Homo sapiens: one gene and its partners. The protein of the gene in region 2 interacts with the protein of the main gene of each other region in a biochemical or structural test. Each region holds a gene or a part of one and is shown on either strand. Other genes may lie near its edges. The genes, in order: PEX5, PEX7, PEX13 and PEX14.

Region 1 (6,904 bases), on a different chromosome or scaffold from region 2:
CCATGATGATGTGACTCCCCGAGATCCTGGAACTTGGTAACTTTCTCTATGTGTATCTCTTGTTATTCTTGATATCTTAAACAGGAAAAAGGCTAACTTTTGAGAGCAATCAGGAAGAGGAAAGCTGAAGAGACTGCCCTTCCCACCATGTACCTGATTAGATAGGCTTAGGGCAAGAAGAATCAATCATAAAAGATGCAGGAGCAATGGATGCTTTCAAAGAGGAAAAATTAGGCTGAAACCTTTAAGTCTGTAGCAAAGCAAGAAAGAAGATAAATTGCAGGCCTGACAGTATAGCATCACAGTTAAGGCCACAGGGTCAGGAATCATTCAAATCCAGGATCAAATCCCAACTCTACCACTGACAAAGCTGTGTAACCTTGGGCACACTTCACCTCTAAGCCTCAATTTTCTTATCTTTAAACTAGGTCTAAAAACAGTAACTACCTCTAGGGTTCTCATGGAGAGTAAGTAGATAATGCATTCAAAGCATGTAACACAAGGCCTAGAACGTAACTATTGTTATTAATTTTTATTATCATCATCATGGTATGGTCTTTACCTTCTAAAGCCATACACTTCAGGCACTGGAACTTCACAATAACACTCTGAAGGCCCCAATTCTGTTCCAAATAACTTAAGGCCAGAATCCCAGGTGCTGTAGTGAATACTCTCTTCCTCGGCAACACTGCCATCCATCCAATCTGTAGATCCTCTCCACTAAACCACAGTGATAAAGTAAAAAGGCCAACCAAACTCTTCGTTCTCTCTATCCAAAATCTCTTATCCAGTACAAACCCAGTCCTCTCTTTAATATACATTACATTCCGTTATCACCTAAGGGAAATTGAGTTCAGTACCCTACCCCTCTAGAAATGAGTCATGAGACCAGAAAAATCGTAATCACACTATAACGTGAACAGGGGAAGGGTATAGAATTCTGTCCCATAGAAGCCAATATAGATTTTCCCATAACAAGTTTCACCTGTAACTTCAGAGATGAATTCTTGGGACCAGTCAGTCTCATTATAATCCTGAGTTACATCCACAGCATCTCCAGCTGCAAGAAACTCCTGGGCCCAGTTCTCAGACAAGGCCAAGTCTGCCACACCAGGGGCTTAAAAGAGAGAGAGAGAAAACTAAGAAAGAATACATACATACCATTCCATCATGCCTAAAGAACCCTGAATCCACGTGAAAACACTCTGTTACTTTTGTCTCCTTCTGCATCTCAGGTCCCCAATGCCAGCAGCATCCAATGGAACCCCCTTCCTTGGCCCTGGCTACATGGAAAACGATCTCCCCTCCCACTAGACTCTGGACTCACCTCTCTGGGGAGCCTGGCGGAAGTTTGACTGCTCAATCTGCTGCATCTCAGCCAGGAGGTCATCCATCTTGAAGGTCTGAGGGGCACGGGACACAAGGGGTGCATTCTGGTCCTGCAGGAATTCAGCCACCAACTGCCAGAAGGGAAATGATGAAATGAACCCATAGGCTTGGGAGGCCCCAGCAAGAGGCAGGACCCACTGGAGGGGGATCCCAATGTTAGATACAAGGAAAGGAAAACACAGAAACTGGAGACACATAAAGAGAAACTGTCTTTCCATAGATTTAGAAGGACGAAAAAATACATTTAAAAACAAGCAGGCATTCTCATTCGGTCAGGAAAGCCCAAAAATTGAAATACGGGTGAACTAAGTTTAAAGGTAAAAACACAGTGGGCAAGAGAAAAATGGGACAGAAAAGAGACTGGTCTATTTACCTCATCTTCAGAAGCTACTCCCAAAGGCTTGGAGGCCTAAGAGAGAAAGACAGAGATGTACAATGACGCAGTTCCTCTAAAATCAGGGGTTGATGAAGCCCATAGGCATCTGAGCCTCGGCTTCTTCATCTATAAAATGGTTGCATTTATTTAAAGGTGCACAGGGTTTTCTAGTGTTTATAAACGCTCAGTAAGTGGTAACTACTATGATTTGCAACACAATAGAGAAAGCAGTTATACCAAGATGTGCAAACAGCCCCTCCACCTCAGACCACCACCACCTGGGCTTTCCACCTCAAGAACACTCACTGCCTCAGAGGCTGCACCTGGGCTTTCCACCTCAAGAACACTCACTGCCTCAGAGGCTGCACCTGGGCTTTCCACCTCAAGAACACTCACTGCCTCAGAGGCCGGGGCTCCGGGGGGCCAGGGGCCAGGCCTCAATCCCTCCTGCCGAAGGGCCTTGTCCTGGGTGAAGTGCCCGGCGAGCTTCATGAGCGGGTTGGCACCCCCGCATTCGGCCTCCACCAGCTCCCGCATTGCCATGGTGACCGCCAGCTCTCTGATGGACACAGGAGGTTTGGAACTGAGGTACCCAAGCCAGACCCTTCTCACATCCACAACTCTGCCCGTATCTGAGGAAGGCACACAGGCGTCTGCCCCACACTGGCCGCCCTCCACCCCAGTGCTTTTGCTGCGACCCCCACCTCTGCCAGGAGTTCGAGGGAGGTCGGTACTCTCTCCTGCCGCCCCCCTCAAAGGCCACCGCTTCCAGCCTGCGCCTCTGCAGAGGCCTCCGCGACTACGGTCCCATGGGCTGGGGGCCAGCAGCTGCCTCCACAAAGGGGCCTGGACCCCGGGGGACCACGGGGACGCTTCAACAACCAGGCTGGACGGCGACACTGCCCGAAGAAGGGACAGTGGGAAAACAGCCCGACCATACCTAGCCCCGCGCAGCCCCAGCACGCGGTGAGCACGGCAGAGGAGCATTCCCTCCCCTTAAGTCACCGGAGCCCTTCCCCCGGCTCGGCCCGGTCCCTCCCGCGCTCCCCACCGCCCATCTCCCCGGCCCTGCTGCCGCTCCAGCCCCGCCCCTGGGACCCGCGAGGCCACCGCAAGGGTGGGGAGGGCCCAGGGACGCGGCCCCGGGCCCCCTCGGGGTCAGGCGCTCACCGCGGAGCGCCGCGCCGCACGACCCGCCGGGGCACCAGGTGCTGGCTTGGGGGAGGGGAGAAGAGGGGGCGGGGAGCCAGGGGGCGGGGCTCAGGCTTAAAGGGGCCGTGACCGCCCCGCAGCGGCCCAGGCCCAGCGGAAGCTGTCTGAAAAGGCGGGGCCTTAAGACTGCGACGCAGCCTGACGGGAAGAGCCGTGAGTCTTAAAGGGGAAGAGCACCTTAGAGAGCGGGTCTTGGAGAGTCGCCTTTAGGAGCGCTCGAAAAGGCCACGGGCCCTAGGATTTGTTTGACGGAAAGCTCAAAGAAGAGTGGAGCTAAGAAGGGCTTCCCAGGCTCTGGGGGAAAGCCGAAGACGCGAGATCCTAGGCTCAGTCGATCCTGCCTCTTCCCTTGGGCGCATTGTGACCTAAGGGGATTCAGTGCCCTTTCTGAGCCTCAGTTTTCCCCTCTAAAATGGGGCTGGCTAATGTTCCCAAGCCCAAGAAAGAGAAAAGCCCTAACACCAGGGGCTGGGGAGTCCAGTCCGAAGCCTTCTTCAGCCTCCTAGGCCTGCCCCGCTTCCAAATAACCCCTAGCGGGGTAGCGTCACTGTCTCCATGGAGACAGGGGCCCGCCCCCGCCTTAATCCCTCTCCACCTCTGCATAATGGGGAAAATAGCACTGCATGATGACAAATTCCGGAGACCAAAATAGGGTCCAACGCATCCTGAGACCTCGAGCTGGTAACGTACAGGGAAGGTGAACAGTGAGTCAGCCCTTCCTTCCGCTAAGTCAACATAGTGGCCTTATTCCCATCACTCCAGGCTGGGAAAGGACAAACATACAAGAAATGCTTTTAATCACGGAATAAGACTAAGCCTCAAGCCCCCTCATCTGCCAAAGAGTGTGCTCTGCTGTCAAACCTCAAAGTCATTGAGAAACAAACCCTGATAATCTCACCCAGCTTCAAGACCAAGGGAGTCCTAGTGTCATGGAGAAGAGCAAGGAGGGGCCCAGGGCTGCCGGTAAATGACCAAGGGCAATAATGCCAGACGAACAGAAGTACCATCCCAGCCCAGGGTGCATGAGCGGAGGCAGGCAGGCAGCAGGTGGCGCCATGGGCCGGGCTTGTTTCCTGGCTGTTCTGCAGATTTCAGAGGTGGAGGCCTCAGGGGGCCACAGGGAATGTCTGTGTAAACTCATCCCTGGGAAGACAGAGAAGCTGCTCTGACACCTCAGGGGAACAGAATGGCAGGGGACAGACCATAAGACTGTGCAACATTTCTCCTTTTCCTTGCCTTTTCGCCCTCTTTCAGAGGCCCCACTTCTACACCCCGTTTTCTTCCGGAGCACACAAATCCCAGCCCTTGGGCGTCCCCTGTTCTCAGGCTGCCATCGTGAGGAAAATACCTGATAAACTAAACCACACAAGGATGAAGAGATGCCCTCCAGAAGGTGCATACTTTTAAAAAGAGGACCCCCTAGAGAGAGCAATGTTTAAAGGAACCCATCTGATACAGTAGAATTTCAGAACCTCAAGGCAACCAGAGTTTCCCAGTACCACTTAAACATCACAACACACATAACCTTCTGCTCTGCTAGGAGTTTATCAACTGATTAGCCGTAACTCACTTTGTGTGCAGATCTTGGAAGAATGCTAATAATAATAACTGATGTTTACTAAAATCCAGGTGTTGTGTAAAACACTTTATGTATCTCAATGTTTTTAATCTTCTTAATACCCCTATTAAATAGATATTAGTAGACCCACTTTACAGATAAGACTTGTGCAAAATCAGATGGCTAGGAAGTCAAAATTTAATCCAGGCATAACTCTAGGCACCTACTTCCCAGTCTTAGAGAAGACTTACTGATAAACCATGGAGATCTTTGATCTCCTAGGCCATAGAATCATTCACAGAACTTGGTCCACAGTCCCAGCCAGAGGTGCTGGGAAAGGGCTAATAGAGTGACTTTGGTGTTTAATATTTAATTTACTGAAGCTCTAGATTTGAAACCCTAGATTTTGTTAATCCAGGTTCAACTTTAAATTCTTGTTCTATTCATAAAAGTAGTAATTTTTATAAAATAAAAATAATTTTTACTTATTCTTTAATGTTTGACGAATTCAAGTTCAATAGATGTTTAGACACACATTGCATTGACTGTGTGCCAGGCATTGTTTCAAGCACTTTTCAACTATTGATTTATTTAATCCTCCTAATAGTTATTAATAATAACTATTATCCCCCATTTTACAAAAGAGGAAACTGAGGCACAGAGAAGTTGAGTGACTTGCACAAGGTCATACTAATAAATAGCAGAGCTGGGATTTGAACCCAGACCACGGTCACCAAACTGTAAAGGGCTCAATGGTCAATATTTTTGGCTTTGTAGTCCATGCAGTCTCTGTCACAGTGACTCAACCCTGCTGTTGGAGCACAAAAGCAGACATAGGCCACACCTAAACAAATGAGCATGGCTGTATTCCAGTAATGCTTTTTATGGGGACTGAAATGTGAATTTTATATAATTTTCATGTTACAAAATATTCTTCTTCTTTTGATGTTTTTCCAACTATTTAAAAATGTCAAATACTTATTTGTTTTGAGACAGTCTTGTTCTGTCACCCAGGCCGGCATGCAGTGGCGCAATCTCGGCTCACTACAACCTCTACCTCCTAGGTTCAAGTGATTCTCCTGCCTCAGCCTCCCGAGTAGCTGGGACTACAGGCACATGCCACCATGCCCAGCTAATTTTCGTATTTTTAGTAGAGATGGGGTTTCACCATGTTGGTCAGGCTGGTCTCAAACACCTGACTTCAGATGATCCACCCCCCTTGGCCTCCTGAAGTGCTGGGATTACAGATGTGACCCACCGTGCCCAGCCAAAAAACGTCAAATACTTCTTAGCTTGCAGACTATGGAAAAACAGGGACCAGGCCATAGTTTGTGGATCTTTGACCTACACAGTCTTATTCCAGAGTCCATGCTCTTAAACACTGTGCTGTACTTCTGCTTTTTAGAAATAAAAGACAAATTTCCTAATATTTTTAACTATGTGACATTTAATATTCATATTTTAAATACCTGACAGGGCAAACAACACTACTAGGCAAAACCTTTCTGAACTTTTATTCAACCCTTTAATAAATCAAACTTATAAACATTTATTCAATTTTCTTAATCCTCTTAAAGTCATATGTCTAAAACTCTTTTCTTTTCTTTTTTTTTTTTTTGCTGTTGCAAGATTTAATAGAGTGAAAACAGAGCTCCCATACAACGGGAGGGGACCCAAAGGGGGTTGCCACTGCCAGCTCAAATGCCTGGGTTTATATCCCGATCATTGTCCCTCCCCCTGTGCTCTCAGGCAATAGATGATTGACTATTTCTTTACCTCCTGCTTTTAGCCTAATTGGTGTTTTAGTGAGCTCTCTTTACTACCTGATTGGTCAGGTGTGAGCTGAGTTACAAGCACCCTGTTTAAATGTGAGTACAGTCATCTTCCCCAGCTGGGCTTAGGAATGCTTAGTTGGCCTAGGAAATCCAGCTAGTCCTGTCTCTCAGTCCCCCCTCTCAACAGGAAAACCCAAGTGCTGTTGGGGAGGTTGGCCAACGACTGCTTTAACTGCTTCCTGCTGAATTGGGGCATAGTAGGTCATGCAGTTGAGATTTCCTCAGCAGGGGTGCCTTTGATGTCATCAACATCAGAGCATGGCCTAGCAGGTCCAGGGGTCTGTAGTAGATCTTAGTCATGGACTGCATCTGGGGCTCCATTTGAAGAGCCATTTGTAGTTTTTACAGCTTTGATTCTGGAAGAGACAAACTTAACAAGGAGGTTAAAGATACAGGGATTGAAATGTATGGCCTGAAGTGCAGGGGGAGGCACATCCAACAGTTAGTAGGGTTTGGGGATAAAGATAAGCCAGTATTGGCTGGATACGTTCCTCACTGAGGGCCCTGGTGCCTTTGGATAATTTTAGCCCTAAG
Region 2 (7,322 bases):
TATTGTAGCAAAATATACATACCATACAATTTACCATTTTAACCATTTTTAAGCAGACATTTCAGTGATGTTGAGTATATGCACATTGTTATACAATCACTGTCATCTATTTCCAGAACTTCATCTTCCTAAACTGAAACTCCATGCCTGTCACACAATAACTCTCCATTCCCCACTTCCCCTTGCCCCTGGCAACCACCATTCTATTTTCTGTCTGTATCAATTTGACTACACTATGTACCTCATATAAGTGGAATCATACGGTATTTGTCCTTTTATGCCTGGTTTATTTCACTTAGCATAATGTCTTCAAAGTTCATCCATGTAAGAATATCCCTCCTCTTTAGGGAAGAATAATATTCCACCATATGCATATATTACATTCTCTTTATGTGTTCATTTATTGTCTTAGTTGGTTCAGGCTTCTATAACAAACTATCATAAACTTGGTACCTTATAAACAACAGAAATATATTTATCACTGTTTTAGAGGCTGGAAAGTCCATCATCAAGCCATCAGCAGCAGGTTTATGTCTGGTGAGGTCCCACTTTCTGGTTCATAGATGTTCACTTCTTGCCGTGTCCTCACGTGGTGGAAGGGGTAAGAGGGCTCTCTCTCCAGCCTCTTTTATAAAGGTAATCATCTCATTTATGACCTAATTACATCTCAAACACCCCACCTCTTAAAACCATCACATTGGTGATTAAATTTCAACATATGAATTTGGGGGGGACAGAAACTTTCAGACCATAGCATCTGCCAATGGACACTTGGGTTGCTTTCACCTTTTGGCTATTATGAGTAATACTGCTGCAAACAGGAGTGTACGAATATCTGTTTGAATTGCTGCATTTAATTCTTTTAGATATATACCCAAAAGTGGAATTGCGAGATTATATGGTAATTCTATGTTTAATTTTTTAAGCAATTGCTATCCTATTTCCCATATCAGCTGCACCATTTTACATTACCACAGATTCTAAAATTTTTAACAAGAAAGTATAACTAAAATAATAAGTGATGAATGATATAAAACGAGCAAGGTAGACAATTAGCCCATAATTAGAGACTCTCAGAGCTTTAAGGGTCTCTAAAGTGCATCAGTCCAAGTATCCATCATATATTTGAAGATAGTGCTTAAAGTTCTTGGATGATGATTACATTAACCCTCTGGCAAACATTGATTAAAGGCTAACTAGGTACCCAGCACAATGCTGTGCAGAGCTAAAAGGAACAATGAAATTATCCATCCTTTCTTGGAATTATTTCCCATAACTACCATATGCAGCCTGCCGATTTACCTAGGATAATGATTCACCTGGGTAGAAAGACCACGTATTTCAATTATTTTACTTCTGGTCTCTCTCCATGGGAAAGATAGACTAGTTTTAAAAATGATGTGGGTTGGTAAATATTTGCAGTTAGAGTCTTTGTGAGGTCACCATAGCAGTTATAAAACAAAACAATCTAAATATAATTGTAGATCCTTATAGAAACCTGACATCTAGCCATGTCTGCCTACATTATTAGGCCTTCCACAGAGTTAAATGGTCTTCCACAGAGTTGGCCAAGTTTAGAAGTTACACAACTCTGAGGTGTAATGAATGCTCATAAAAAATGGTTTCTGTCTCAGTTGGGAAATACCAAGTACTCCTAAACAATGACAAGAACAGGTGGAAGACAACAAAAAGAGTCTTTTTTTTTTTTTTTTTTTTGAGACGGAGTCTCGCTCTGTCGCTCAGGCTGAAGTGCAGTGGTGTGATCTCAGTTCACTGCAACCTCTGCCTCCAGGGTTCAAGCGATTCTCCTGCCTCAGCCTTCTCCAGAGTAGCTGGGATTACAGGTGCCCACCACCATGCCTGGCTAATTTTTGTATTTTTAGTAGAGACAGGGTTTCACCATGTTGGCCAGGCTGGTCTCAAACTCTTGACCTCAAGTGTTCTGCCTGCCTTGGCCTCCCAAATTGTTGGGATTACAGGCATAAGCCACCATGCCCGTCCCTTCCAGGCAATTCTTAACTCCAATTCTATCCATACCCCTAGCAAACTTGGACTCCACTTAGTAAAGCATGGGTGGAGGAAGGGGTGTGGAGCAAGGGCAGGGGACAAGGAGAATCTAAGGAGCATTTCATGTTCCTTTTCCTTAATTTTCCAGTTCACCTCAAGTTGTCAAACATTTGTGCAGTGTTTACTATATATTGGACATTCTTCAAGGTACTGGAGACACAAACAAATTAGACTTGGACATTACTTCGAGATGCTCAAAATCTAGTGTAAGAGTATGGTTTATTTTTTATATGTTTAGTTGTTTATATTTTAGAAAGCTTCACAGGTGGGATGAAATATTTTACAATGCTATAATCATGTATGGTTAGGTAAGGAGCAGGTAATAGCTCAGTTTGTGTGTGTGTGTGTATGTCCAAGGTCACTGTAAATAGTTTACCCCAGCTGGAACCAGCCTTTCTCCCTCCCAGAGATACCACACTATTTTTAGCTTAGATTGGATAACTCTTTATATACAACTCTTTGCCAAGGTCCCAGCTGCTTCATGTTTGCTTACTTTGATATTTTATTAACGCCTATTTAGCATTTCAATAAACTCCAGAATGTTTCCAGGTTACTTTTTGTAGTATTACGAAAAACACACTGATCATTTAGGCACTGTATTAGGCTGCATTCACTCAACATTTCCTGAATGCTTAAATACCAGGTCCTTGGGATACAACAGCGAACATAACAAGCAAAAATTTCTGCCCTCATGCAGCATACATTCCAGTGACTACATATGATAAAAATCCAAAATAATAGAGGCCACACTGGTCTGGATCCTCAAGTGATCCGCCTGCCTCGGCCTCCTAGTGTGCTGGGATTACAGGTGTGAACCACCGCGCCCGGCCTGCAAAAGTCTTTTAACTGGCCTCCCCATCTCCAAACTCTATCCTCCATATTAGTGTTGCAGGACTTTTTAAAATAAAACCTTGGTCATTTAATTTCTCACATTAGAAAACTTCCACTGTTTTTCACTGTTTACAGTAGAAATCCAATTCTCTTAGTATGGTATATAAGACTCTTCATGATCTAGCCCCAGTAAAACACTCTACAGTCTCCCCACCCAATATTTTTTTCACCGTATCCCTTCCATCTGGCCAGGCTGAGTCCTGGCAGCCACGACCCCCTATGGATCATGCTGGTTTAAATCTCCTGGGTTGCTCATGTTATTCCTGCTCCTACAAAGATCTCCATCTTCTTGTCTACCTAAAGAAAACCTACTCATCTGTGTGCAATCACCATAAAGACTTATCTCTCTTCTGCAGCCTTTCCTGCAATTTCCATACCTCTGGCACGGACAATCACCTTTTAAAAATACCCCATATAAATTTATCATAGCCTCTACAGTATTTTGATTACACTTAACTAATTACATGACTTCTCTTTTAGTCTTCTTCTCTAATCTCTTGAGGCCATGGACCATATCCCATTATTTTGAATCCCAAATGCCTAGTACTGTTCTTGGTATATGGTTAAGATGATCATACGACTTGGTTTGTGCCTGTTGACCTGGCTTAATAATTACACCCTCTTTACTCTCAAAAGTATCTTGGTTTGGCAGATAAATTATATTTGGTCATTCTCCACATAGTATATGCCTGGCAATAAATGAATGAATGAGCACCAGCATCTGAGCACTTATTACCATACAATATATACATGTATAGTAATACTTTTTAAAAAAGTTGTATATGATGATGTGCTGCTTTTTTGCTTAGCTTCATTAGAACTGGCCAGCTCCTTTTTCTCACTTGCCAAGCATGGGGAGTTGGTTTGGAGTTGGTGTTTCATCTTTTCCAGTTACAGTGTGAAAGTAGCCCACCAGCCCACGCTCTTATTCCTAAAGACCGCAGTGACTCCACGGACTTAAGTTCTCATTGCTTCCAGTTTCCTTGGGCAACGCAGCACGCAATTTTGGACGCGCTGCGTGGTTTCAGAGTCGGCTGTAACTTTTCTCACTTTATAATCATCAGGAAAAGTTCCTGATGCCAGTCTTCCAAACGCTCAATGAAATAAAAACCAGATAGCACCGCAGAGGAGGCTGAGATGCAACGACAAAAGCTGTCGTAATTATTAATAATACCTAACCCTGGATCACTCCCCTGATAGATCTGTATCTTTGCAGCAGGCGCAATTCAGTTTGGATTCACCCAAAACAAAAATGGTCTCCGTCGGAGTCAACGCCCTTTCCTGTGCGGACCAATCAGAATCTCAAACACAGGGCACGGGGCCCACACTTCCGTCCGGTCTGCCTGGTCTCTCTAACCGCGCCAGTGTGCCTCCGACTCGGAACGGCTTCCGCGGCCGGGGCAGCGAGGGCCGGGGGCGGCGGGCGGGATGAGTGCGGTGTGCGGTGGAGCGGCGCGGATGCTGCGGACGCCGGGACGCCACGGCTACGCCGCCGAGTTCTCCCCGTACCTGCCGGGCCGCCTGGCCTGCGCCACCGCGCAGCACTACGGCATCGCGGGTGAGGCGGCGCCGCGCAGCTGGGGCCGGGGGGCGGAGGCGGAGGCGGGGGCCAGCCGGGCTCCAGTTCCTCGCGCTCGAGGGAAAGCCCCTCTGAGCGTAGACGGTTCCGCGGGTCCACGCCAGGGGGCAGAAGAGGCGCTGGTCGGCGCTTCTCCTTTCTTTGCCGAGTGCGAGGAGTTGGTCTGAAGCAGGAGTCGATCTTCCAGTTGTGTGCAAGTGCATATACGTGTAGCCTAGTAGCCCGTGTCCTTGTTCCTTGAGACCGCGCTGCCTCCGCCACGTGTCACACGCCCAGGCACACGTCCCCGTAGGGAGAGCCGGGGGAGCCTGCGCGGTCCCTTGGATCGGTCCGCTCGGCACAGCAGTACGGGGAAGACGGTCTGAGCCAGAACCGACCCAGGGCTCGCGAGTTGGCCCACAATTCCCAGTCTGCATTCGAGCACTGAGCTGCGACCTGCGGGCTGGCCTTCCTAAGGACGATGCTCCTGAATGGACGCCTGGAGTCCCACGGGTGACACCATGAAATATATCAAGTTCAGTTCTTACCTGTAGTTGTCTAACGAGGAATGCACACATTCGCAAGTAGGTGTTACAGACTCCAGTTAATTGTCTCCCGTCGCGCGCATTGGCTCAGCCTGTGGTTAAAGCTGCTCAGGAGGCTGAGGCGGGAGGATCGCTTGAGCCCGGGATGTTGAGGCTACAATGAGCTGAGATCACATCACTCTGCCCCAGCCCAGTGAGCTGAGATCACATCACTCCACTCCAGCCTGGGTGACAGACTGAGACCCCGTCTTAAAAAGAAAAAAGGCCAAGCGCCGTGCGGTGGCTCACGTCTGTAATCCCAGCACTTTGGGAGGCCGAGGTGGGCGGATCACTTGAGTTCGGGAGTTCCAGACCAGCCTGACCAACATGGAGAAACCCCATCTCTACTGAAAATACAAAATTAGCCGGGCGTGGTGGCGCATGCCTGTAATCCCAGCTACTCGGGAGGCTGAGGTAAGAGAATAGTTTGAACCCAGGAGGCAGAGGTTGCGGTGAGCCGAGATCGTGCCATTGCACTCCAGCCTGGGCAAGAAGAGCAAAACTCCGTCTCAAAAAAAAGAGTCCATCTAGTCCGTGGACTAGATGAAAAGGCGTAGGTTCATTCTCGCTTTTGCCTTAATTCATGTCCTAGCTATTATACGCACTGAAGCGAGATGCAAAAACTCATTTCATAATGTCAGTGGTCTATTGTATTTTTTTGTTTTGTCCTACAGCAGAAAAAAATGTTACTTCTAAAACTCAGAGAAATACTTGATTTATTTTCATTATTAGCTCTTAGTGCTTGCACATTCAGATTTACATGGCCCACCAGTTAGACTGAAGACTCATGAGTCTATAATGGTAGTAGTTTTCTTTTTTTCTTTTTTCTTTTTCTCTTTAGAGACAGGGTCTCACCCTGTTGCCTAGGTTGAGTAGAGTGGTGCAATCACAGCTCACCGTAGCCTCCACCTCCTGGGCTCATATGATCCTCCTGTCTCAACCTCACCAGTAGCTGGGACCACAGGCATGTACCATCACACCTGGCTAATTTTTGATTTTTTATTTTTGTAGAGACAGGGTATCACTATGTTGCCCAGGCTGGTCCGGAACTGGGTGCAAGCGATCTTCCTGCCTTGGCCTCCCAAAGTGCTGGGATTACAGGCGTGAGCCACTGTGACTGGCCTGTAATGCTACTTAAAATCTTATGCAAAAACTCTTTAAAGGGAATTGGTATTTAAAAAAAAAAATTCAGTCATGTTTAAATAGAAGAGATTTTCCCCCTTGGTCTCTATAAAAAGTAAACATAACTTTTAAAATACAATGGCCCTTTGGTAAAATAATCTTTGACAGGTAACATATTAATACTGTTTTCAGCACTTTATTACCACCAGTTATGTAGTAAATCCCACCAAGTATCTCCGCATTCATATTTTGTTTTAAAATCCTGTGTGAGATGTGTTTTAGATTTACTGGTGAGGAGTGCAGTCCCTGGGGTCTGTAAGCCAGAGGTTTCTCATCTGTCAGTAGGAATGATAACACCAACTTGGAAGGTTTGTGTCTCTGGTGCCTTGTCTGGCTACAGAGTAGGCCCTTAAGTATTTCACCCCCCTGTTAGGTCCATGTCTGAATTCCAATCATAGGTGCAATGGGAAGTTGAATATTTAGTAACTGAAGTACAATATGGAAAAACAGAAATAGAGAACACATTTGGTATTCATGTCCCAAAAACTTTAGGGAGAAATTGATCACCTGACCATTTGGTATTCAAGGTCCCAAATACTTTGGGGAAAAATTTGTGGTATTAAAATCAGGTATCAATTACTTGATAACTCCTTGACTTTCGATGTTACCCTGGCAGGTTCAAAGGGATGACCTTGATTTTTTTTCTCTTTAGGCTGTGGAACCCTACTAATATTGGATCCAGATGAAGCTGGGCTAAGGCTTTTTAGAAGGTAAGGGGGCTGAAATTATTAAAGGTATATATTGTTGCTATTAAAGCCTTAATAGAATTAGGTTTTGACTCTTTGATTAATGTTTTAATATACAGTATAAAAGGAACCTTGGCGTTTGCATAGGATGAAGCTTATTTTTAGCTGATTGTGGTGGTGCGCACCTGTAGTCCCAGCTATTCCCAAGTCTGAGGCAGAAGGATCACTTGAGGCCGGGAGTTCAAGACCAGCCTCGTGGGCAACATAGGAGGACCCCGTCTCTAAAAGAAATTTTTTTTTTTTATGCACAGAGTCTGGCTCTGTCACCCAGGCTGGAGTACAGTGGCGCCATCT
Region 3 (7,024 bases), on a different chromosome or scaffold from region 2:
TGGGAGATTGTCAGTTTTTTGTTTTGCTTTGTCTTTTCAGAAGTGAGGAGATCTGAGAATGTTTTTAGGCTAAAAGAAAGGAGTCAGTAGAGAAGGAGCAGTTATAAATAAGGGAAAGATAGGAGTTAAATGATGAAGAAGCTACTATAGGAAGTAAGAGAGGGTGTGATCTTACGGAACCTGGCAGGTAAAAAGGAAGGACGGTTTTTTATCTGAGTCAAAAGGAGAGGAAATCGGTAATGATACAAAGAGATTTTTGAGGAGAAGCAAAATTGAGGTCCTATTACTTTAGCTCTTAGAGCAGGGGTTGGCAAACCGTGGCTTGTGGGCCAAATCTGGCCTGCTCCTATTTTTGTACAGCTCACAAGCTAAAAATGGTTTTTATACTTTTCAGTTGCTGGGAAATTAAAAGAATGTTTTAAAAATTGAAATAATCTGTGATGTGAAAATTATATAGAATTCAAATTTCATTAATAAAGTTGTATTGGAGCACAGCCACACTTATTTCCATACATATTGTTATGGCTGCTTTTCCACTGTAACAGTGGAATTGAATAGTTTGCACAGAGACTATATGTGAAATTCCGATGGCTTCACTTTTGCTCTGCCCACTACAAATTTCAGTAACTTAGTTATAACTTGATAGCATGATGAGTAATATATACATTGTTATACTACAGTGGGTTTTTTTTGAAATTATGAATTCATATATGACACACAAGAAAAAAGTGTACTTTGAGTGTCATATTTTCAAGGCACAGTATAGTATGAATTATTTCGTTATTGAATTAGATAGTAAAAAAAACTGTATTTATTATACAATGACACTATAGCTATGTTAAATGGCTATACTACATATCAGCATTACCAGATTGAGCACTCATCACAGAAAATCAACAGTCAAAAAAATTAGAAAATTTAAAATGGAATTCTCATCACAGCAGAATTTCCGCATCAAAATAAAAATAAAATAAAATGAGGCTGCAACCAAAATAAGTTCCTGAGAGGTTCATATGTTACCCAAGCAAGGAAACCTGTTTACTCATGGTCATTGCAACAGCCAAAAAAAATATGTCCAGAGAAAGTAAACTTGTTTAAGATTATTAGCTTCTCAGTGAGAACAGTTCCTTGAAGAGTTGATGGCATTTTGAACAACATGGCCAACTTAAAATAAGACAAATGATTTGAATGTTTTTCCTTGGCTCATCATGACCCAATGGATATTAATACTTGCTAAATCTGTTGGCTAAATGTTGTCATCATGGGAGTGAGTTCATTATCTCGAGAGTGAGTTTGTTATACAAGCTAGTTTGGCCCTCTTACTCTCTCGCATGCACTCTTTTGCCATGTGATGCCTCCTGCCATGTTATGACACAACAAGAAGGCCCTTACTAAATGCCCCTTGATCTCGGATTTCCTAGCCCCCAGAACTGTGAGCAAATAAACTTCCATTGTTTACAAATTACCCAGTCTGTAGTATTCTGTTAAAGTAGCATAAAACAAAGACAGGCTGGGTTCGGTGGCTCATGCCTGTAATCCTGGCACTTTGGTAGGCCGAGGCGGGCGGATCATGAGGTCAGGAGATGGAGACCATCCTGGCTAACGTGGTGAAACCCTGTCTCTACTAAAAAAAAAAAAAAAAAAAACAAATTTTCAAAAAAAAGACAGTACTGCTTAGTTGTTTATTTGAGAAATCAATGGTGAATTGGAAATGACTGAAGAATTAGCCTCTATGAATAGTCATGGTTCAACTACAGACAAGAACATTTTCAAAGAAGGTGAAAACACTGATTCCGTACAACCTGAATCTGCTAAGATGTGTTGCACCTGATAATGGTGAAAATTCTAGGTGGAGCAGGAAAAGGCCTAGTTGGACAAAAGTTACAAAGGTTTTGAAAATACAGTTTTTTTGTTTATGGTTATTCATTGTATTATCAGCAGCCACATTGCAGAAAATATTTGAATTTATCATGTGTTATTGAACTAGTAGTGTCAAGGTAAAGTTTATTCACTCTTGTGACATAATCATTGTCAGTTTTGTGAATTTTTGTCAGATACAGAAGCTGAAGATCCCGACTTGCCCTACCGCATGGCAATTCAATGGCAGAACAAGGTTTAAGTTTTATTTTATTTTTTTTGAGATTGAGGCCAAGAATGAAATTTTTCTGAACAGAACTCCTTTTCAGCTATTGTTATTAAACCCATTCAGCTTTGGAAATCACCTTTTACTGCAGACTTAGTTAAATTCTGAGTTCTTTTTGGAGACAGGGTCTTGCTTTGTCAGCCAGGCTGGAGTGCAGTAGCGTGATCATAGCTCACTGCAACCTCACACTCTTGGGCTCACATGATTCTCCCACCTCAGCTTCCCAAGTAGCTAGTACTAGAAGTACACACCACCACACCTGGCCAATTTATTTATTTATTGTGGAGACGAGATTCCACTGTGTTGCTCAGGCTGGTCTTGAACTCCTGGCCTCAAGCAATCCTGCCTTAGCGTCCCAAAGTGCTGAGTGAGATTACAGGCATGAACCACCATGTCCAGCCCAGACTTAGTTATATTCTTTGTTGTTGTTTTCTTTTTGAGACAGGGCCTCACTCAGTTGCCCAGGCTGGAGTGCGTAGTGCAGTCTCGGCTCACTGCAACCTCTGCCTCCCAGGTTCAAGCGATTCAAGCTGAGACTATAGGCGCGTGCCACCACATCTGCCTAATTTTGTTTATTTTTTTGTAGAAACAAGGTTTCCCTATGTTGCCCAGGTTGGTCTTGAACTGCTGGACTCATGCAATTTCCCCTGTCTCAGCCTCTCAAAGTACTGGGATTATAGGCATGCGCCACCATGCCCGGCTAATTTTGTATTTTTAGTAGTAATGGAGTTTCTCCATGTTGGTCAGGCTGGTCTCAAACTCCCGACCTCAGGAGATCCACCCGCCTCGGCCTCCCAAAGTGCTGAGATTACAGGTGTGAACCACCACGCCTGACCTATATTCTTAAGTAATTCAAACGGAAACCACAAAGCAGAACAGTGCTTATATGCAAAACTTATGCTGGAGTAAAGTTTTGACAACACCTAATACAGTTTGACTCACAAGTAATGTCACACTGCTTTATAGACCTCTCAGACTGTCAGAAGTTAACACAAGCAGTATCTCCATTCCCACGCAAGTTGGCAGCAGATACATTTTCCAAGCTTAAGCTATTAATACAATGCCAGAGCATTTTTTGGACCTCCATGCAAGCACAAAGGAAATTTCCATATTTCAAAATCCATTTAACTATGCAATTGAGGAACTTCCACTTAATCTTCATTTGGAAGTGATTAATCTGCAATGTAATAACATGGTAAAAGGCAAATATCAAGAGAAGAATTTAACAGAATTATATTCTGGCCTATTACTCTCCCAACTAATAAATATGCTCAATTAAAACCACATACTCATAGACTCATATTAGGATTTGACATTACCTATCTGTGTGAAAAGGCATTTTCAAAAATGCAGTACCTCAAATTTTATTACAAATTAGAATTAGCAAGTGAATATTTATAATTGATTTCCAATTAAGTGAAATATCCTTCCCCCAAAATATTTCATTCTTCTAAGTAACTTCCAAATAGACCTGTATTACCAAAAAGAAACATGGTTATTATATTTTTAATCTTGTCAATAAATTTATGGAAATTTTGTTTCCTCTTTTTATAAAAGTAATTGCCCAATATCCTGTTTTGCCTCTTGGCTTTCAAAGTCTAAAATATTAACTATCTGACCCTTTTCAGAAAAAATTTGCCAACCCCTGGCTCACGGTAAGAGAGCGGGAAGTTGGAGCTTAAAGAAAGGAAAAAGTTCATAATAGGTATCTTTAGTGGATCTATTGTTGATTTAACATAGTATTCATTATAGTTTTTACTTGGGAGGGGAGGACTTTTCTCTTGGCAAATTTATGCAGTTTGCAAGCCATAGCCAGTGAAATATCTGCATTTTTCTTTTGTAAATTTTATTAACCTAATTTTAATTTGGCTTATAGACAGCATCAACTGGGCAAGTGGTGAGGATGACCATGTAGTTGCCAGAGCAGAATATGATTTTGCTGCCGTATCTGAAGAAGAAATTTCTTTCCGGGCTGGTGATATGCTGAACTTAGCTCTCAAAGGTAATAAATTATGAATAAGTTGGAATTATCTGTAAATTTTGATATTCATAAATGCAGTATTAAAAACTACAACAAAGGATCTTGTTCATTGTTAGTTAACTTAGAGATAGTTACTAGAACTTCTTTTTCATGTCAATTTAGAGCTTCCAAATCTGGAGGAGTCAGGAAGAAATGCCCCAGCAGAGTTATTCGAATACTATTTCACTGAGATAAGGAAAGGCTTTGTTTATATAGGCTTTTCTAAACTCAAAATACTTGAATTTCAAACTGTTAATCCCCACACAAAAACGTGATGTCAGTAACTAAACATAACAAATCTAATAAAGCAAAGGAATTATGTAACATCATCTAAGCATTGCTGTTAGTCCTTGTGGACTGGTGTTGCTTCTTTATTACTTCAGCAGTGTTTACCTCAGAAATTTCATCATAAGTATTTTAGGAAATAGTGTCATGAAGTATTATAGAACCCCAGCAAGAGATTTATACGCATCTCGGGTTTATTTTTGGACCAAGTCACTGATACTTTTTAATGACTCTAGGCAAAATGACCTTTTCCTTCACCCTTCCTGAGTAATGATTATCAGGATTTTTATGGATTTTTTTAAATATGTGTATTTATGGGGATTCAAGTTTATTGCAAAAAGTGATGTTTTGTTGATAAAGGTACTAATAACAATAACATGTTATTTATTGAGTACTTACTATGTACAAGGTACTGTATTTTACATATTTCATTTAAGCCTTACAATAATACGGTGAAGTGGTACTATTATTATCCTGTCATTGTTTTACCCTTGAAGAAACTGAGACTCAGAATAAGTAAATTGTCCAGTATCACAAAGCAAAGGTGCAATAGAACTGGACTATGAATCTAGGTTTGTCTAACTTGAGACCTTGTGCTTTTAACAACTCTGGCTGTTTTTTCATGGAAGGATCTATTTATGGAAACTTCACCCTTTTTTTGGTTTTAGTCATTTTTTGCAGGGAAGAAATACTTTCAATGTTCAAATCATTACTATGTAAATAATTGAAAATTTTGGATGAGATTACTAAATCTTTGCCTCATCCCTTTTACAAAAAACCTAGACTTAAGCGAGGTGCAGTGTGTGCACCTATAGTCCCACCTACTCAAGGGGCTGAGGCAGAAGGATCACTTGAGGCCAGGAGTTTGAGGCTGTAGTACATTGTAATCACACCTGTGGAACAGCACCACTGCACTCCAGCCTGGGCAACGTAGTGTAACCTTGTCTCAAGAAAAAAAAAACAAACCTCTAGACTTTTAGGTATTCTATTTGTATTTTTCTTTCTTTTTTTTTTGTTTTGAGACAGAGTCTAGCTCTGTTGCTCAGGCTCGAGTGCAGTGGCACGATCTTGGCTCACTGCAACCTCCGCCTCCCGGGTTCAAGTGATTCTCCTGCCTCAGCCTCCTGAGTTGCTGGGACTACAGGCACATGCCACCACGACCAGCTAGTTTTTGTATTTTTAGTAGAGACAGGCGTTCACCATGTTGGTCAGGCTGGTCTCGAACTCCTGACCTTGTGATCCGCCCGACTTGGCCTCCCAAGGTGCTGGAATTACAGATGTGTACCACCACGCTGGGCCTATTCATATTTTTCTTATAGGGAAAATAGCAATTTACTATTTTGGATTTCAAACGAATGATTTTTTAAAGATTTGTTGTTAGAGACAGGAACAACACAGATAATTTTAATTAGAGGTCATGTGGTTTCTTTCAGTTACATAACACTTCAGAAAAATTTTATATTTCATTATTCTTCAATGAATAGTGCCTCTTAACACTAGCTTGCTTCTTGGCTTTCCTCCATTGCTCAAGAAAAGTATGTTTGGGCCTTTGGAACAAAATCGGTCGTAGACATGGTAAATTTGTTTTTTCCTGTTATTATAGAGCATTAAACATTAAAAAGTCTTATATTGTGCCTAAATTATAATGTTGAACTAAAATTGTAACAGTTAAGCAGCTTTTTAAAGATATAGATAAAATAGGAAAATACAATAGAAAATTGAGTACATTAAATAATCTTTCTTTAAGCTTAGAGTATTGCCTTTATTTATCATATGGCTAGAAATAACAAAGGTCTTCAATTTTTTGCCCATCTTGGATTGAAATTAATATTTACTGTCTTCAGGATTGTTTATTACAATCACATGAAACGAATTTTATATTTTTGCCAAAAGTAGGCTAAGAAAGCTGAGTGCATTAAAGGTATATCTTTTCTATACTTATTCCTAACTTACCCAGTTGAGAAGGAATAAGATATTCATTTTTTAGACTCCAGTTTAAAATATGAAAGACATTGATGTTAGTTTTCAGTTTTGAGAGAACTAAATCTCCCTACTCTATGAATGGACCAACTGATAATAAACTTTATGTTCTTCAAGGTGGAAGGAAATATTTAGTAAGTATAAAATAAAAATAGAAGAATGGACCCTAGAACTGTTAAGCCTACTCAGCATTTGATTTTGAATATATATGCATGTACTATTTGTTATCTACTATGTAAGCATAACAGATTTTCCTGAATGTGATATTTTACCATTACTATTCTGTTGGACCTCCAAAGTATATTGTAATTACAAGACTGTCTTTTTTTTCCATCAGAACAACAACCCAAAGTGCGTGGTTGGCTTCTGGCTAGCCTTGATGGCCAAACAACAGGACTTATACCTGCGAATTATGTCAAAATTCTTGGCAAAAGAAAAGGTAGGAAAACGGTGGAATCAAGTAAAGTTTCCAAGCAGCAACAATCTTTTACCAACCCAACACTAACTAAAGGAGCCACGGTTGCTGATTCTTTGGATGAACAGGAAGCTGCCTTTGAATCTGTTTTTGTTGAAACTAATAAGGTTCCAGTTGCACC
Region 4 (7,537 bases), on a different chromosome or scaffold from region 2:
TAAGCCGAGATCGCGCCACTGCACTCCAGCCTGGTCAACAGAGTGAGACTCGGTCTCAAAAATAAATAAATAAATAAATAACTCATTTAGTCCTCAGAGCAACTCTGTGAGATAGGTCCTAGTATTTTCCCTGTTTTGCACATGGAGAAATTAAGTCTAGAAAAATTAAGTAGATCTGTCCGAGATGACATTGCTGGTAAGTTAGTGGAGTTAGGATTCCAAGCCAGTGGGTCTGGCTTTAGAGCCTATACTTGTAACCGCTATTCTACACTGCCTCTCAAGGGAAGAGAAGGTTATTCACCTTTAATAGCTGGAAACCAGAGATTGATATGACAAGGCTAACCAACAAACTTTCTGTGAAAGACAGAATACTGGCTCAGCCCCACAGTTCTAACCCTACACAACAAGGCGTGGGGGAATTAGCTAAACAATCCTTTCAATCCTACTCTGCTTTAATCGGAGAAATGGGAAACTGGATTGATCAAGACTTGAAAATGAAACAGGCAATTGCTGAAGAGCATTGGTTCATTCAAAAAGCGTGCATTTGCTTCTTGTTAGATAGCCATAGAGTCTGTTATGAAAAGTTCAAGTTTTGGCCAGGCACTGCAGCTCACGCCTGTAATCCCAGCACTTTGGGAGGCTGAGGTGGGCGGATCATGAGGTCAGGAGATCAAGACCATCCTGGCTAACACGGTGAAACCCCATCTCTACTAAAAACACAAAAAATTAGCTGGGCATGGTGGCGGGCGCCTGTAGTCCCAGCTACTAGGGAGGCTGAGGCAGGAGAATGGCGTGAACCCAGGAGGCGGAGGTTGCAGTGAGCAGAGATCGCGCCACTGCACTCCAGCCTGGGTGACACAGCGAGACTCTGTCTCAAAAAAAAAAAAAGAAAAGTTCAAGTTTTTCCCCCAGGCTGCCAGCATGTTCTGTGGCAATCCTACCTCCACCAGCTTTGGAAAGGAGGGCAAAGGAGAAGCAGAGCTGAAAATCAAACAAGTGATGGCCATGCCCCCTTAAAGGACCTTAGATCCTTTTCTATTAAATACATATACAGAGAGGGCAAACTTGCAAAACCAAAAGAATCCTTGGGCATAACAGTGGCTCCAAGTGGCAAGATTTTTAGTACTGTTTACAGCACTGGCAAATTAAATGTCCTATAAGAATCAGGAACAGAGCCGGGCACGGTGGCTCACGCATATAATCTCAGCACTTTGGGAGGCTGAGGCGGGCAGATCACTTGAAGTCAGGAGTTTAAGACCAGCCTGGCCAACATGGTGAAACCTATCGCTACTAAAATTACAAAAATTAGTCAGGTGTGGTGGCAGGCACCCGTAGTCCCAGCTACTTGGGAGGCTGAGGCAGGAGAATTGCTCGAACCCGGGAGGCAGTGAGCCGAGATTGCGCCAATGCACTCCAGCATGGGCGACAGAGAGAGACTCCGTCTTAAGAAAGAAAAAAGAATCAGGAACTGAGGACACCCTTCAATCCCAGCCTGTGGGCATTCCTAACACAAAACAATTCAGAGAAACCCAGACCCCAAGATGCCTTAGTATTTCAGCAAACTAAATGTGGTAAGGCAAGAAAGGAGAGGCCCTCCTCTCGAGACACTTGCCAAACTCCAGAACACCTGACAGTGAGAAGGCCAGAATCAGTCCTTGTTATCTCCCATGTTTTACAATCAAGACATCTTCTTCCTGAATCATTCACACTGCTAATAGAAACTGGTATGGGGGAACACACCAACTCCTTTAAGTTCAATTCTTGTAACAGACGTGCAGAATAAGACAGTAAGAAACACTAAGCGGTGGTCTTCTGCCTCTGAAGGAAGTGAAATACTAGTAAGTTGCTGAAAACTCTTAGAGGTGCTTCAAGGAGATGGGAGAGGAGGAATGAGGCCCCAAGTTGAAACTATTTTCTTCTTCCTCATTCTAATCCTAACTAAACTCAAAAATGTATGGATGACTAGTGGAGTCACACAGGTTCAATACAGGCTCAACAGAGCACACGATTTGGGGCATGTCACAAACCCTTAGTATTCATTTCTGTGAAATGGAGGTTAGTAGCCTGCACTTCATAAAGGTTGTAGTGAACACTAAACGAGATAATAGATGTAATTTGTGCTCAACATGACACCACACAGGCAGTTAAATGTAAGATGTCTCTTAGCCCTTTTCTCCTCACCCCACCCTACCCCACCTTTGGACTATAAACCCCTTCGGAGACCTTATCATCCACTGCCTCCCGGCCGCAGAGGCACAGGCGTCAACGCTGGTCCTTATGGTCCCCTTATTGGAGTGGGATTTGTCTGAATCTGCAGGTGAAAAGCTAGAGCGGAGCCCTCGGCCAACAAAACCAAACCCAGGGAAGCGAGGATGGGTCCTCAGCCAAAAGCTTGGTGGCGTCTGTTAGTCACAGTGCGTCCCTTTCCTATCAACGCACTGAGAGGGCTCGACTAGATTATTTCTGACTATCCAACTTGACGAGAGAAGCGCAAAGGTGACCACAGATGAAGAGGCTGGCAGCCGCTCCAGGAGGCTGAGGCCGTGAGGGAGTGGGAACCCTAATGGAAACAGGCCCCTCCCCGGAGGGGACAGCCGGGAACGATCGATCTATCCTCTCCTTCTCAAGCCCTCGCAGCTCAAGGCTGGGGACTTCCCAAGGGTCCCGTCACCCTCCCCAACAAGCTCAAGTGGGACCAGAGGTGCTGGCAGGCGGGAAGTGGGGACCCGGGGGCACAGCCAAACACCAGAGCCCGGGCTCCGGAATGTGGTCAAAGAGGGGTCACCGGGGGGAGGGGCCGGGTGGGGAGGACCTGGGGAGGGGCGGGGCTCAGGAGGGGGCAAGAGGTCGGGGTCCCCAGCTTCGGAGACTCGGGGTCCCTACCCGGCTCCCAGCCGTATGCTGAGCGCCCCCTCCAGCCGGGGTCTCCGCCGCACAGCGGGGCAGTCCCACTCCCCTTACCTGGCTCGGCTGCTCTGCCTGCTCCGAGGACGCCATCTTTCTGAGGCCTGACTAATCAACCGCCGCTGGGCGAGGTTTCTCCCAGGCGCCCTCGCTCTCGCCCTCCCGCCCAGACTAAGGTAGCCGGAACAGAGCCTGTCGATGTAGGGGACTGGGGCAGAGGGGTGGAGCCCGGGTGTCCGGGTCACCTTGCATAGTTTCCGTTAAGACTCTGCTTTCCAGGAAGATCCCAAGTCTATATCTTCTTTGCGTTGTTATATGTGTATTATTCTGGTTTTGCTTTTTTTTTTTGAGACGGAGTTTCGCACTTGTTGCCTAGGCTGGAGTGCAATGGCGCGATATCGGCTCACCGCAACCTCAGCCTCCCGGTTTCAAGTGATTCTCCTGCCTCAGCCTCCCGAGTAGCTGGGATTGCAGGCATGCGCCACCATGCCCGGCTAACATTGTATTTTTAGTAGAGATGGAGTTTCTCCATGTTGGTCAGGCTGCTCTCGAACTCCCGACCTCAGGTGATCTGCCCGCCTCGGCCTCCCAAAGTGTTGGGATTACAGAAGTGAGCCACAGCGCCCGGCCCATATTATTCTTATTGAGTTAATCTCTGCCCATCCCCACAGTGCCATGGGCACATTTAGGGACTTGCCAATGGATGAATGCGAAGAAACTTGGAAATTAATTTTTAGACATCAGTTCAGTTCCATTCATTGAGTGCCTACTATATGCTAGGGACTTTGGTAGGCCTTGAAATAAAAACATTCAAGACTCAATCCCTACTCCCACGCCCAGGCCAAACACACTTACAATTACAGTATTATGGGGATAGGACTCGGATAAGTGTGCAGGTCTATTGGGAGAACATAAAAGGGGGCATTTTGAAGAGAAGAGGCTTCTACAAAACGTCATTATTTTACACTGGTTGAATTGTTAGATTTTTTTAATTGTTAGATTTTAAATTAAATATTGGACGGGAGCAGTGGCTCACACCTGTAATCCCAACACTTTAGGAGGCCAAGGCAGGAGGATCCCTTGAGCCCAGGAGGTTGAGGCTGCAGTGAACTATGATTATGCCACTGCACTCCAGCCTGGGCGACAGAGCGAGACCTTGTCTAAAAATAAGATAAGAAAATAAAAAATGAAATTATATGAAAAAGGATACATACATTAGAGTTAACCGCCAGCTCCTATTATAGTTGTGTTTTGATCAATATAGACTGCTTAAAAGGGATGACTTAATGAATAATTCCTCCTACTAAACGCTGTTTTAAATGTCTAAACTTTTCTTGAGATAATATCCAATTTCCTCTCCCACGTTTTTTTTGTTTGTTTTTGCTTTTGTTTTTGTTTTTGCTTGAGACGAAGTCTTGCTCCTGACGCCCAGGCTGGAGTGCAATGGTGCGATCTGGGCCGACTGCAACCTCCGCCTCCCGGGTTCAAGCGATTCACCTGCCTCAGCCTCCCAAGAGCTGGGACTACAGGCGTGCGCCATCACGCCCGGCTAATTTTTGTATTTTTAGTAGAGATAGGGTTTCACCATGCTGGCCAGGCTGGTCTCAAACTACTGACCTCAGATCATCTGTCCGCCTCGGCCTCCTAAAGTGCTGAGATTACAGGGGTGAGCCACCGCCCCCGGGGCCCTTGCCCACGTTTTTATAAACAAAATATGAGGTGGGAGGATTGCTTGAGCCCAGGAGATCAAAACTGCAGTGAGCCATCATCGCGCCACTGCACTCCAGCCTGGGAGACAGAGCGAAACGCTGTCTCAAAAAAAGAAAAAAGAAACAAGGAAGGAAAGTGTCCCCCGAATGAATAAATATGAGCAGATAATTACTTCTAGTTTACATAAAATGCCCTCTTTTAAGAGAGGAACTTTTTGATCATTTTTATTACTATTCTTTTAATCTTAGATGTTTATTTTTCAGGAGGAAAAAAACAAACTTTTCCATAGTAGCAGTATTAAAACAAAGATGAATATGTTGTCAAGAGGCATCTGAACAATCTCCAACAGTGCCGAGTCGCATTTCCCCTTTCCTCTCCGATGCATTTGAGACTTTAATGCTTACTATATTTATTTAAGCGTTTTGTTCTGAGACCCCAAACTAATTTGCACAGTTGAAGCAGGAAATAGAATGGGTGGAAACATGCGGGTGTCTGTATTAGCATTATGCATCTCATATGCGAATAGGAATGCTCTAAAAATTCAATACAGTATACATGCGTGTGCATCGTCATGCAAAATAAGTCTCTATTGGCCTTATATTTGAACGCGCGAATGCAGCTCCTAAAAGTTAAAAACAACTCCTAGGCTGAATCGCGCGATAGAACGAAAGCGGCTTTAAACCCAGAGACTACAGTTTCCGGCATGCTTCGACGCCACACGTGATTAGCGGCAACTAGAACTACATTTCCCGGCGTGCCCTGGTCTCACGTGTGATTTGCTGCGGAACGAACTACATCTCCCGGCAGGCTGCGGAAGGGGGTCGAGTAGAAGGACCGCCGCTCCGGCCTCCCGCGACTTCTCGAAGGTGGGCAGGTCCCACCTTGTGGAGGATGGAGGTGACCGGGGACGCCGGGGTACCAGAATCTGGCGAGATCCGGACTCTAAAGCCGTGTCTGCTGCGCCGCAACTACAGCCGCGAACAGCACGGCGTGGCCGCCTCCTGCCTCGAAGACCTGAGGAGCAAGGGTTGGCTCGGGACCCCGGGCGAGGGTGTGGGGGAGCCAGGGCCGGGTGAGGACGTCCGGCGGGGGCGAGGCGGGGTCAGGAGAGGCGACTTGGGGATTCTTGTATCTCGGGTGGAGGCTTGGGACAGAAACGGTCCGAGTGGGCATAGCGATTTACAGATTTAAGGCGCTTGAGCGTAATTAATCTCGTGTGAGACTCCACGGTGGTGGGAAGACAGCCAGGAAGCAATGTGCAAATTAAGCCAGACTCGGCTTAGGTCTCTTGCCTGAAATCACTTCGATGTTGGACCAAACGGACCCCACTGGGTTCCTGCCACTCCGCCACACTCAGATGGTACAAGAACCCCCAGCTGAGCCCACGGCGGTGTGGGGAGGGGTTTCCACCGTCCGCTCTGGCAGGAACCTATGCAGGAAAGAGGGAGCTGCTACTGACCATTTCTGGAGGTCCAGACAAGGAACGTGAGTTGTAAGTGACGGAGCCGACGGAAGTTCCGAGCCCGGCCCCATACCTTTACCAGCTGCTTGGCCTTGCACTTAACCAGCTCTCAACCCTCAGTTTTCTCATCAGCAAATTGGGTATAATATTTATAGCCCTGCTTCAAAGGGTTGTTGGTTCTCTCAAATAAGATGATATATTTAAGTGACTTACAAGTCTTATTAGCCAGTAGCAACAAATCGCTTACCCAAAGAAGTTTTACAGGTTACATGTGTGAGCCAGCCCCAGGCATGTAGTCACAGTGTGTGTCAGAGGGCACAGTTGCTTCCTCTCAGTCACCAACAGAAATCATATGGAAATTTTCAGAGACCCATGAACAGCCAAAGCATTATAAATGCTTTGGTAACATGGATTTTGCATATAAGCATTTATGTATTTTTTTTCCTGACATTAGATTACTTTACTTCTAATTCCCCTTCAGTGCCGTGGCTGGATGTGCGTGGCACAGAGGCTGGTGTTCTCTGCAGTCCAGCGCATACATGCCTTGCTGTTCTATTGGGTGGTAGACAACACCGCTGAAGGATATTTGTAGTCTCTTGGCTATTTCTGATCACTCCAGTCCCGTTAGTATTTGAAGCATTGCTATCACTAAATGGAATAGTACAGACCTGTCCTGGAGAAAGCCTCTCCGCCAATGATAATGATATGAAAAGCTACTGATAGAAGCTTCCACTTCTTTTATACTTTCCCATAGGTTAGAAAAGAAGCTGCTAAGGAAGATACTGTAAAGAACAAAAAGCATTTTCTTTTTTTTTTTTTTTTTTTGAGACGGAGTGTCACTCTGTCACCCAGGCTGGAGTGCAGTGGCGCTATCTCGGCTCACTGCAAGCTCCGCCTCCCGGGTTCACTCCATTCTCCTGCTTCAGCCTCCCGAGTAGCTGGGACTACAGGCGCCCACCACCACGCCCATCTAATTTTTTGTATTTTTTAGCAGAGACGGTTTTTCACCATGTTAGCCAGGATGGTCTCGATTGCCTGCTTTGTGATCCACCCGCCTCGGCCTCCCAAAGTGCTGGGATTACAGACGTGAGCCACCGTGCCTGGCCTTTTTGGTGTATTTTTTGACATTTTTACACATAGGAGAATTTAAGAGGACACCTGAGGGCCGGGTCCGGTGGCTCACACCTGTAATCCCAGCACTTTGGGAGGCCGAGGTGGGCGGATCACGAGGTCAGGAGATCGAGACCATCCTGGCTAACACGGTGAAACCCCGTCTCTACTAAAAATACAAAAAAATTAGCCGGGCGTGGTGGTGGGCGCCTGTAATCCCAGCTACTCCGGAGGCTGAAGCAGGAGAATGGCGTGAACCCGGGGGGCGGAGCTTGCAGTGAGCCCAGATAGCGCCTGGGCACTCCAGCCTGGGCGACAGAGTGAGACTCCGTCTCAAAAAAAAAAAAAAAA

The links.
Region 1: the proteins of PEX7 (region 2) and PEX5 form a complex in vitro, tested with the Homo sapiens proteins (3 studies listed by BioGRID).
Region 3: the proteins of PEX7 (region 2) and PEX13 form a complex in vitro, tested with the Homo sapiens proteins (one study listed by BioGRID).
Region 4: the proteins of PEX7 (region 2) and PEX14 form a complex in vitro, tested with the Homo sapiens proteins (one study listed by BioGRID).

Annotation. Positions count from the first base shown.
Region 1 is NC_000012.12:7,185,782-7,192,685, reverse strand, and holds the start of PEX5 (peroxisomal biogenesis factor 5), read right to left. Parts: upstream 3,001-6,904; 5' UTR 2,936-3,000; exon of another isoform or gene 2,753-2,935; coding exon of another isoform or gene 2,706-2,752; exon of another isoform or gene 2,325-2,705; coding exon of another isoform or gene 2,309-2,324; coding exon 2,162-2,308; coding exon of another isoform or gene 2,072-2,161; intron 1,799-2,071; coding exon 1,763-1,798; intron 1,461-1,762; coding exon 1,328-1,460; intron 1,118-1,327; coding exon 986-1,117; intron 1-985.
Region 2 is NC_000006.12:136,818,280-136,825,601, forward strand, and holds the start of PEX7 (peroxisomal biogenesis factor 7), read left to right. Parts: upstream 1-4,312; 5' UTR 4,313-4,386; coding exon 4,387-4,516; intron 4,517-4,618; exon of another isoform or gene 4,619-5,084; coding exon of another isoform or gene 5,085-5,100; intron 5,101-6,934; coding exon 6,935-6,992; intron 6,993-7,322. UniProt on the Homo sapiens protein: Receptor required for the peroxisomal import of proteins containing a C-terminal PTS2-type peroxisomal targeting signal. Specifically binds to cargo proteins containing a PTS2 peroxisomal targeting signal in the cytosol.
Region 3 is NC_000002.12:61,041,707-61,048,730, forward strand, and holds part of PEX13 (peroxisome biogenesis factor 13), read left to right. Parts: intron 1-4,019; coding exon 4,020-4,145; intron 4,146-6,765; coding exon 6,766-7,024. UniProt on the Homo sapiens protein: Component of the PEX13-PEX14 docking complex, a translocon channel that specifically mediates the import of peroxisomal cargo proteins bound to PEX5 receptor.
Region 4 is NC_000001.11:10,470,427-10,477,963, reverse strand, and holds the start of PEX14 (peroxisomal membrane protein PEX14), read right to left. Parts: upstream 3,015-7,537; 5' UTR 2,998-3,014; coding exon 2,962-2,997; coding exon of another isoform or gene 2,884-2,961; intron 1-2,883. Other genes in the region: DFFA (DNA fragmentation factor subunit alpha), read left to right, coding at 5,506-5,641. UniProt on the Homo sapiens protein: Component of the PEX13-PEX14 docking complex, a translocon channel that specifically mediates the import of peroxisomal cargo proteins bound to PEX5 receptor.